Linked DNA regions of Homo sapiens. The protein of the gene in region 2 purifies or fractionates together with the protein of the main gene of each other region. This does not show direct contact. Each region holds a gene or a part of one and is shown on either strand. Other genes may lie near its edges. The genes, in order: HECTD1, EPB41L5 and SETD1A.

Region 1 (3,654 bases), on a different chromosome or scaffold from region 2:
ATCCCCGTGTTTTGACACACAACATTTAAAAATCATTCTTGGATCTCACTTACATCCTTACTTATATATCCTTATAGATACAATAGTTAAGTTGTGGATCTGGTGTTTTTTTAAAAAAATAACACAAGTAACTGGTCAGTTCTAGCTGAGGCATACTTTAAAACTGAACCCAACCATTGGATCACAAGTGTGTGAATATATATTTCTTCTAGCCTTTCAATTTTAATACCCGTATTTACTATAGAAAAACACATTTCTTTATGTAGTAATTTCAGAAAACTTTGGATGATTCAAAATGACAAGTACCTGCTAAAGCTCTTAAGTCTGATGACTGCATTGAAATAGTCACATGACACAGTTCTGTACGCTGCAAACATTTTAATGATTATTGTTGAGCATACATTTTGGAAATTTTTTACTTCAAACGGCAACAAGTTAAATAAATGTTTATAATATACAAAGAAAATACAACCGAAAGTAAAACTCGCTGTAAGTGTGCCTTGCACTTAGACCAGGTTTTCCCCCCTTAATACATCTTTATTTTTGAGCTGCAAACACACTTAAGACTTTGATCTTCATAGTATGGCATTTAGGAAATAAAAATATACTCCCACCTTAAAGAAATAAAAAGTTTGGTGCATGATTATATGCCAAACAAAGAGAGAACACTAGAATACTCTTGATAGTGCAGGCATCATTAAAAAGGAAAAGAAAAAGCTTGAGATGCTCATTAATTCTCTATGTTTTAAGGAAGCAGGATTTTTGACCAAGTAGCTTAAAAGCCAGCAAAACAGGGATCAGTGACAGCAACTGTAGTGTATGGAGTATGAAATGACAAACTTTACACAAATACACTGTTAGAAATTTACCAGTGAACACTGAAGATCTGAGAAGCTGCTCTTTGGAACAGTCAAGTGGGACCACCTTATTCCAGTCACATAAGCCCTTGTAAAGTAACACAGTGTTCTGTGCTATATACTTGCTGGCTGGGTAGTTACAGGATTTGTTTTGTCATTAGCAGCTAAAAAACTTATTCCACATGTTCTTAAAGCCTTAATGGTGGAAAAAAAGGCAAGTGTCATTAGCATGGTGGATCATATACTTCTCTGCACACAAACACAAGAGGCTTCACTAGTATTTTTAAAGTCTCTGATGTCTCCCATTGCACTTCAAAGCTCAATTGAGATGAAAGCCTTTCTCCATTGTAGCAGCTAGCAGGCGCTCTCTCATGATCTCCTCGGAAGAATATTCAGGCAACTTAAGGTAATGCACACATGTATTGACTGATGGATAGCTTGCATCAGTAGCATCAACCTACAACAAGAAAGCAAACACAACAGAAGACCATGAGTTTAAATACTTCTTTCTTTCAAAAGTAAAGTAACTAAATTTCATTTGGATTCCCCATTAGCCAGAGAGCTTGTACCTTGCGTACAACCGTGAGCCTGGGATGCAGGTTAGCCAGTCCACCTGGGGGTAGAGTTGAACAACCAGTGGTAAACTGCAAGAATGCTTTCCTTTCATCAGAAGACATGCCACATAAAACCCTCACAAACCTCAGGAAACCAGGGCTAAAAGAACAAAAATATAGTTATATTGAGTTGACTGCAGATTTAAATGAAAATCACTACCACTATTTTCTAAGGCAGCAACAAGCCCCCTAAAAAACAATATCCTCACACCAGAACAACAACACATCTAGAGACTCTTGGTTAAGTATGAAATGGGCTAATATAAGCTACTTTAAAAATATCCCGGGCCAGGTGTGGTGGCTCATACCTGTAATCCCAGCACCTTGGGAGGCTGAGGCGGGTGGATCATCTGAGGTCAAGAGTTCAACAGCAGCCTGACAAACATGGTGAAACCCCATCTCTACTAAAAATACAAAATTAGCTGGGCGTGGTGGCGCACGCCTGTAATCCCAGCTACTTGGGAGGCTAAGGCAGGAGAATCGCTTGAACCTGGGAGATAGAGGTTTCAGTGAGCTGAGATTGTGCCATTGCATTCCAGCCTGGACAATAAGAGCGAAACTCCATCTCAAAAATAAAAATAAAAATCCCTCAAAGACTGTCTTGAACTTACAAATTGTAAGAACTAAAAAATACTGACAGTGTATGGGGTCCATCTATTCTGCAACAAAGTCAGCAAATCATAAAAACACAGGATGCACTTGCAAAATCATTTCAAATATGGATAAATATACCAAAGGGGATCTGAAATAATTTTTATTCCAGCAAAATAATTATCTTGTGATAAATTTATGTAATGAAATAGTAAATGAACGACATGCCACAACATGGATAAATTTCATAATCATAATATTACTCAAACCAGACCACAAAGAAAACAGACTACATGATTTCATATATTAAAAGTTCAAAAGCAAGCAAAACTGATCAACATATGGTGATTAGATTAATAGAAAAGAATATGGTGGGAAGGGGGATTTTTGAAGTTGTTTCATATTCTGGATACCAATTATACAGGTGTGTTCATTTTGACAAAATCCTCTAAACTGTATATATGATGTGTGTACTTATCTGTTATATTCAATAAAAAGTTTAATATAAACGTAGTATATAGCCCAACAGCTTACAATTTACCAAATTTTAAAAATGAACAATTAAAACACAATGAGGAAAGGAATCAACATCAGCCATGATGTCAGTTGTCTTTTTTTTTTTTTTTTTTTTGAGACAGAGTTTCACTCTTGTTGCCCAGGCTGGAGTGCAATGGCATGATCTTGGCTCACTGCAACCTCCACCTCTTGGGTTCAAGTGATTCTCCTGTCTCAGCCTCCCAAGTAGCTGGGATTACAGGCGTCTGCCACCACGCCCAGGTAATTTTTGTATTTTTAGTAGAAACGAGGTTTCACCGTGTTGGCCAGGCTGGTCTCAAACTCCTGACCTCAAGTGATCCGCCCGCCTTAGCCTCCCAAAGTGCTGGGATTACAGGTGTGAGCCACCGCGCCCGGCCTGCTGTCAGTTGTCTTTTTGTATCCTCCCAGCCTTATCAGTGGATATGCATTCTGGTAACTGTGAGACACCACTGCTTTCTCACTTACTTTATGATACTCACTGAATTAAAGTTCTTTAGAGAATCTGTCATTTGATTTGGGGAATATAAATAATTTTGTTGATCTTGGAAAATAGTATCACATACCTGTCACGTGTATAACCCAGCTTAGGTTCAGTGTAATTGATAATATCCTCTGCTGCCCAGGATGGTGACTGGTTTCCACAAAGAATCATTTGGACTTCTTCATGGCTGAAGGAACTTAATTTCTCCATTGGAAAAACTTTATTAAACCCATCTACATCGTACATGTAACGGAAACACAAAAAACAAACATACAACTCAGTTTCCAAGTTACGATTCCAAAATACCAAATTTCAAACCAAAATACCCATTATCAGAATCAATCTAAGTATCTATCAAGGGATGAATGTGTAAAGAAAATGTGGTATATGTACACAATGGAATACTATGCAACCATAAAAAAGAATGGGCTGGGCACGGTGGCTCACGCCTGTAATCCCAGCACTTTGGGAGGCCGAGGCAGGCAGATCATGAGGTCAGGAGATTGAGACCATCCTGGCTAACACAGTGAAACCCCGTCTCTACTAAATATACAAAAAATTAGCCGGGCGTGGT
Region 2 (3,654 bases):
GAAGATGTATATTTCCTCAGTCTCATTTATAATAGTAAAACTTGGTACAAACCCTAAACGTCCAAAAAAAGAGAAATGGTCAAGTAAATAGAGGCATATGTAAAAAATTATGCAGAGGGATAAATGAATAAATGATGAATGAATGAATGTGCTATTGTTTATTCATATTACACAATAGCATATATATATGTTAGATCTACATAGGTACACGTTTAGATAAAACAGGCAAGCTGCAAATATATATAATTATGCAAGTTTTTAAAACAATTCTAACATGAGTTAATATTTGGAAAAAGTTACAAAATATATATGAGAATAATACCCTCCAAAATTGGTGACCAGGTACCAGAAGAAAGGGGGTAGGTAGTCAGGGGGTTAGACTTTAGTTGGTATTATTTATTCATGCACATAATTGTATTTATCTTTCTCTAAAAGAGAACTGAAGCAAAATGTAAAAAATGTTAAATCTAGATCATTAATAAGATGGTTATCTATTTTATAATTTTTGGTACTTTTCAGGTTATTTAAAGACACTATTAAGACAGTAAAGATGGATACGCTAATTACCCTGATTTGATAATTACACATTGTATACATGTATCAAAATATCACTCTGTATGCAATAAATATGTACAATTATTATATGTCATCTAAAAATAAAAGTGGTGGAAAAAGGGCAAAACAAGGAGTAGACGATACTTGCAACACTAATATCTGACAGAGAATTAATATCCAGAACATACAAAGAATTTTTTCAATGACTAAAAGGCACATGACCTAATAGAAAAATAAGCAAAAGATTTGAGTAGGCATTTCATAAAGAAGATATCCACATATCCAATAACTACACAGATAAGTACTAAACCAGAGTTGTCATTAGGGGAACACAAACTAAAACCACATTCTACTCCACAAGAATGGCTACAATGAAAAAGACAGAATTCCAAACATTAGCAAAAAAGAAAAAAAACACCAATAACATTGCTGGTGGGAGTATAAACTCGTATTAAATACTTTGGAAAGAGGTTTGGCAGTACCTACAAAAGCTAAATATACATACACCTTAGTGTTCAGAGCAGCACTCTTTTTTATTTTTTAACTTTTATTTTGGGTTTGGGGTACAAGAGAAGGTTTGTTACATAGGTAAACACGTGTCATGGTGGTTTATTGCACATGTTATTTCATCACCCAGGTATTAAGTCCAGTTATCTTTCAGTTAGTTATCTTTTCTACTCTTCTCCCTCTTCCCACCCTCCCCACTCAAGTAGATCCCAGTGTCCGCTGTTGCCTTCTTTGTGTTCATAAGTTCTTATCATTTAGCTCCCACTTGTAAGTAAGAGCATGTAGTATTTGGTTTTCTCTTCTTGCATTACTTTGCTAAGGATAATATCCTCCAGCTCCATCCATGGTCCCGCAAAAAAGATCTCATTCTTTTTTATGGCTGCATAGTATCCCATTGTGTGTTTAAAACAGGAAAAGTATAGCAGTCAAATTACTGAGCAGAGGAAAATGAAAGAACTGGATTCAAAAAAAAAATTTTCATCGTTATAAAAATGTTTAAACATACAGAAAAACTGAATACCCATATACATAGTGTCTAGACTCAACAACTGTTAACATTTTGCTCAAACTGCTTTTATCTGTATCTGTATGCATATGTTAAAATTTATTAATTTGCATAAAGTAAAATTCTTCTTGCCTTTTCTAAAGTATCAGATAAATGGAGTCATTCAATACATAATTTTTTAAATCTGGCTTCTTGCATTAAGAACAATGCATGTGAGTTGCATCCAAGCATGTATCAATTAAGAACCACACTGTAACTGATACAAAGGTAATCTTTAATTCAAAAGGCTTTATTATTATTAGGTAGATCTTTTTGATCAGTTAATAAAGAGATAAAGTTGGTCTGCCACAATGGTTTACTCCTGTAATCTCAACATGCTGAGAAGCTAAGATGGGAGGATTACTTAAGGCCAAGAGTTTGAGAGCAACCTTGGCAACATACTGAGATCCCATCTCTACAAATAAATGAAAAAATCAGCCAGGCGTGGTGGTGGCATGTGCCTGCAGTCCCAGCTACTCAGGAGGCTGAGTGAGCAGGAGGATCACTTGAGCCCAGAAGGTGAAGGTTACAGTGAGCTATGACAGTGCCACTGCCCTCCAGCCTGGGTGACTGGCTGGCTCACTTAAATGTAATTTTTTATACACCTCAGATATACGATCAATGAGGAAACAAGAAGACACTTTTATATTATTTTTCATCCTAAGGGCAGAAAACCATATTTTTAGCATGGTATGACCCAAGTAAGGAAATTATTTAAAGCATTAATTATACTGTTTGCATTCTGTGGCTCTTTAAAACAATGAGGTACATTCCCTCTTTTAGAGAAATAAGTTACCACATAATACAGTCACTGTTACACAAGTAATAGAATATAATTTTATTCCTACCTGATCATCATCTTCTACAACCACCAAGGTTAATTTATTCTTCTTAAAATCCAATCTGGTTATCTTCGGCCTATAATATAATAAGAGAATAAAAGCCAAATTACAAACAAATGTTCTCTAAATATGAAAAAAATTGTTTTTATTTCAAATACATTTAACCATCTAACTCCTGAACTAAAAATTGACAGGACGGTAAACGTAACTTGCAATGCCCATCAAAAGACAGGAAACAGAAAAACACAGTACATATTTCAAAAGCAAATCTCAGACAAAATTGAGGTTGCACATATCAGACATTAAAAATGTTAAGGAAAATGAAATCTATGTATTTGATAGGTCTCGATTATGGTGTAAGAGATTCTTTAGGTCTAGGGAAAATTGTTCCAGTGTTAAAGCAGAGCAGCAGCATAGGAACTAGACATAGGAACGACCATAAAGCTTAAAAAAAACAGCCATAAAGAAAAACACTGACGATGGTTTTCAACTCTTTTTGTTTGTTTGAGATAGGTTCTCCCTCCATTACACAGGGTGGACTGCAGTAGTGTGTTCACAGCTCACTGCAGCCGTGAACTTCCAGGCTCCAGTAATCCTCCTGCCTCAGCCTTACTCCCACACCACACCAGGCTAATTTTTGTATTCTTTGTAGAGACGGCATCTCGCTACGTTGCCCAGGCTGGTCTCAAATTCCTGGGCTCAAGTGATCCGCATACCCTGGTCTCCCAAAGTGTTGGAATTCAGACGTGAGCCACTGCAACCAGCCTCAACTCTGTTTTCAACAGGAATTTTGGGTAGAGGAAATACTTCTTAATTTTTTTAACCTCGCTTTATGGCCCGCTTTCCAACTGTATCTCCCTACTTGTAAATTCCAAACCACCTACCACACATTTGAACTCTGTATTTCCATAAATTGTGAATGTCGAAACAATGTGACACTCCGATTGACTAATCTTTAAATATAACATATAAAATAGATGTAAAACATAACTTTACAAGAGCTTTACTAAAACAATAATGAAGAAATAATAGCAGGAAAAAGAAAGGAAACAGAATCTCACTCTGTCACAAAGGCTGGAGTGCAGTGGCGTGATCTTGGCTCACTACAACCTCCACCTCCCAGGTTCAAGCAATTCTCCTGCCTCAGCCTCCAGAGTAGCTGGGATTACAGGTGCGTGCCACCATGCTATGCCTGGCTAATCTTAG
Region 3 (3,654 bases), on a different chromosome or scaffold from region 2:
CCCACCTCAGCCTCCCAAAGTGCTGGGATTACAGGTGTGAGCCACTGCGCCCGGCCCCAACTCTCCTTTCTATCTCAGCAAGAGTGGTCCACCCTTCCAGAAAACTGCCCTCCCCTCATTCCTTAACACCCTGTAACTTGGCTTCAGTCTGAACCACTCAACTGAAATTGATAAGGTCACCAATGACCTCCTAACTGTCAAATGCAACAGATACTTCCTATCTCAGCCTTGCTGGTGGCCTGGTGATACAAGGCCACTCCCTGCTTTGCAGAGCCTCTCCACTACCTGCTTCCCTTCTCGCCTCTGGTCACCGCTCTCAGCCTCCTCGGGCCCTGCTTGCCCACTGCTCTCACAGGATGGGAAGGCTCTGCCCTTTCTCTCCCCCCACTCGCCTACCTGGGTCTATAGGTGAATTCACTGCTACACTTTCAAGACCTAAGCACCGACCTCATATCCAGCCTACCGTTCTTTCCAGACCCCAGATCCATGGATCCAACTGCCACTGTTTCTACTGGGAAGCCCAAGGGGCACCTCAAATGCAACCTCAACTACACTCATCAGTTTTCTTCCTAATCCTGGTTTTCTTCCCAAGTTTCTTTTCCTGGGGAAGTTTAACCAAATCATCCTACCTCCTAAATTTCCCTCCAATCCTCACCCCCATTTCCACTCCACTCTTCTGCCACATTAGAACCGCTCGGCTTTGGTTCATGCCATTAAATCTCACCTGCATCCTTTCAAACCTCCTCATGTCACCCACCTCCTTGCTCCTCTCTTCCAAATCTCTCCTCCTCCTGCTAGAATGGGCTTTCTGAAATGCAGATATGGTCAGGCCCCTCTCCTTCCTGCTCTGATGAGAATGGAAGAGGACTAAGATCCATGCCTTCTGACCTGCCGGTGACCCCACAGGCCCTTCTGCTACCCAATGGGCCCAGAAGAGGTTGGAGAGTCATCTGAGGTGTAATGAGCGCCTCAACTCCCCTCTCATGGGGTCTGGAGCTTAGTAGAGTGCACCAGGGTGAGGAGGTCTTCCTGTGGGCACTGCCTATCTCAGACCACGGATTCTCAACAACGTGCAACTGGGAGACCCCGGGAGGCCATGCACATCTTCACAGCACATCTGATTTTTGAGATGGAGTCTCACTCTGTTGCCCAGGCTGGAATGCAGTGGCATGATCTCTGCTCACTGCAACATCCACCTCCCGGGTTCAAGCGATTCTCGTGCCTCGATCTCCCAAGTAGCTGGGACTACAGGTACACAACACCACATCTGGCTAATTTTTGTATTTTCTGGTAGAGATGGGGTTTCGCCATGTTGATCAGGCCGGTCTCGAACTCCTGACCTCAAGTGATCTGCCCGCCTCGGCCTCCTAAAGCTCATAGCACATCTTGAACACTGACTTATTTGATCTATCCTTGCAACACCCTAAGTCCAAGCTATCACCATAATTCGCCTTACATTCTACAATAGCCACTTAAGAAGCGCCCTACATCCACTGTGGCCCCTTTCCAAGCTTTCTCTGCACTGCATTTTTTCGAAACATACATCTGACCATGTCATTCCTCTGATGGGTTTCTACTTCAAAATAAAGGCCAAATTCCTGACATGGCTGGCCTATTTGTCTGCTGGGCCCAACTCTCACTCACTTCTCCAGTTTCAGCCACCCCAGTGCCCCCTTGTGCTCAACCCTCTGAAGGGTCGGCTTTCTTCCAGTCTTCCAACCCGCTGCTTCCCCTGCTGGAGGGCCTTTGCACACGCTAAGCCAGCCGTGCTGCCTGCTTTGCCCAGACTTCAGCCCAGCAGTACCTCAGCAGGAAGCCTTCCTCCTCCTGCAGATGTGCTCCGGCTGGCTGCCCTGTGCCTCTTCCTGGTGCTTCTCATGGTTCGTAACCACAGGTTTTCCTAGGTATTCTCTCTTTTTTTTTTTTTGAGACAGGGTCTCGCTCTGCCACCCAGGCTGGAGTGCAGTGGTGTGATCTTGGCTCACTACAACCTCTGCCTCCTGGGCTCAAGTGATCCTCCCACCTCAGCCTCCCGAGCAGCTGGGATCACAGGTGTGCGCCACCACGCCTAGCTAGTTTTTGTAATTTTTGTAGAGACAGGGTTTCATCATGTTGCCCAGGCTGGTCTTTTTTTTTTTTTTTGAGACAGAGTCTCGCTCTGTCGCCCAGGCTGGAGTGTAGTGGTGCGATCTCGGCTCACTGCAAGCCTCTGCCTCCTGGGTTCACGCCATTCTCCTGCCTCAGCCTCCTGAGTAGCTGGCACTACAGGTGCCTGTCACCATACCTGGCTAATTTTTTGTATTTTTTAGTAGAGATGGGGTTTCAACCATGTTAGCCAGGATGGTCTCGATCTCCTGACCTCATGATCCACCCGCCTTGGCCTCCCAAAGTGCTGGGATTACAGGCGTAAGCCACCGCGCCCGGCCTCCTATGTATTTCTTACTCAATGAAGATGTCTTTCCCTGTAGACTGTAAGCATGATGAGAGTGAGAACACTGCCTGTGAGGCTCAGCAACCCATCCCCTGCACCTACTGTTTGGCTGCGATGAGCACTCAAAAAAATATCTACTGCTTGAAAGAGCGGTTCCCTCAGCAGGCTAAGCTATGCGAATGTGCTAGAGTATAACAACTAGACGTACAAATGAACAAAGAAAAGCAGCTAGGACCAAGTTCTGTGTTATGTTAATACTTGTTTTCTACCTATTTGCCCATTTAATAACCTGCACTTGTTCACTACTCACTGAAGAACAGGCTTAAGAAAAATTAGGAGGAAGAACTTATTCAACTGGGCACTTTCTCCTTAATTTACTTGAGAAGAGACCAACCCATTTTACTTTAGTATGCAGCTTAGCCTGGGGTTCTGTAAACCACCATGACGGTACAGTTTGAAGTGTGTCAGACAATCAATGTCTCTAGAAGGTAGTGACAGGAGATGGTGACATTTTCTTTGTATGTTTTTCTAATAAAGTCACACACTTGTACACAATAAATGCAAGCACCACTGTTTTCTCTCTCTCTCTCACACACACAGCGATCTAACCGACAGCCCTGTGGCACCTACCTGCAGGCCTTGCTGGAGACGCCTCCTGTTCGGGCAGGGGTGTGACTGGGGAGCCTGCAACCCTTTCCGGCACTGGCACCTCCACAGGTGCTGGCGTGGGCACTGGGACTTCTCTGGGGGGCGGGGAGGCTGAGGGAAGGGCTGCTGGCCGCTCCTCTTCCTCTTCATCTTCAGAGGAGGACTCAGAGGATGAAGAGGACGAGGAGGATGAGGACGAGGAGGAGGAGGAGGATGAGGAGCTGGAAGAGCTGCTGCTCTCGGAGTCTGATGTGCTGTCATTTTCGCCATCTGAGTCAGCATACAGAGAACATTTGGAAGACGAATCGCTTTCCTCGTCCTCGCCTGGAAATCCAGAAGGGGCAGTCAGGAGAGGTGGGCAGACCTCACTTGGCCAGCCGTGGGCTCCTCACTCACTCCCTGCTGTGGATGCTGGGCTCTGGGCTAGGGACGGGGAAGTCCAACAGACCAAGGAGCTGCATAAGCAAACCATTTTCACTGTGAGATAAACATCAGCATGCGGGGAGGATGGCAAAGGAAGCCCCAGACTCTGTCTGAAGAGGCCCGAAAAGGAAAGCATCCCAGGGGACAAGCTG

Evidence for each region.
Region 1: the proteins of EPB41L5 (region 2) and HECTD1 purify together in Homo sapiens (co-immunoprecipitation; 3 studies listed by BioGRID and IntAct, with this or other methods). This does not show direct contact.
Region 3: the proteins of EPB41L5 (region 2) and SETD1A purify together in Homo sapiens (co-immunoprecipitation; 3 studies listed by BioGRID and IntAct, with this or other methods). This does not show direct contact.

What each region holds. Positions count from the first base shown.
Region 1 is NC_000014.9:31,099,754-31,103,407, forward strand, and holds the end of HECTD1 (E3 ubiquitin-protein ligase HECTD1), read right to left. Parts: intron 3,314-3,654; coding exon 3,163-3,313; intron 1,572-3,162; coding exon 1,427-1,571; intron 1,315-1,426; coding exon 1,177-1,314; 3' UTR 364-1,176; downstream 1-363. UniProt on the Homo sapiens protein: E3 ubiquitin-protein ligase which accepts ubiquitin from an E2 ubiquitin-conjugating enzyme in the form of a thioester and then directly transfers the ubiquitin to targeted substrates.
Region 2 is NC_000002.12:120,086,041-120,089,694, reverse strand, and holds part of EPB41L5 (band 4.1-like protein 5), read right to left. Parts: intron 2,525-3,654; coding exon 2,455-2,524; intron 1-2,454. UniProt on the Homo sapiens protein: Plays a role in the formation and organization of tight junctions during the establishment of polarity in epithelial cells.
Region 3 is NC_000016.10:30,971,127-30,974,780, reverse strand, and holds part of SETD1A (histone-lysine N-methyltransferase SETD1A), read right to left. Parts: intron 3,404-3,654; coding exon 3,062-3,403; intron 1-3,061. UniProt on the Homo sapiens protein: Histone methyltransferase that catalyzes methyl group transfer from S-adenosyl-L-methionine to the epsilon-amino group of 'Lys-4' of histone H3 (H3K4) via a non-processive mechanism.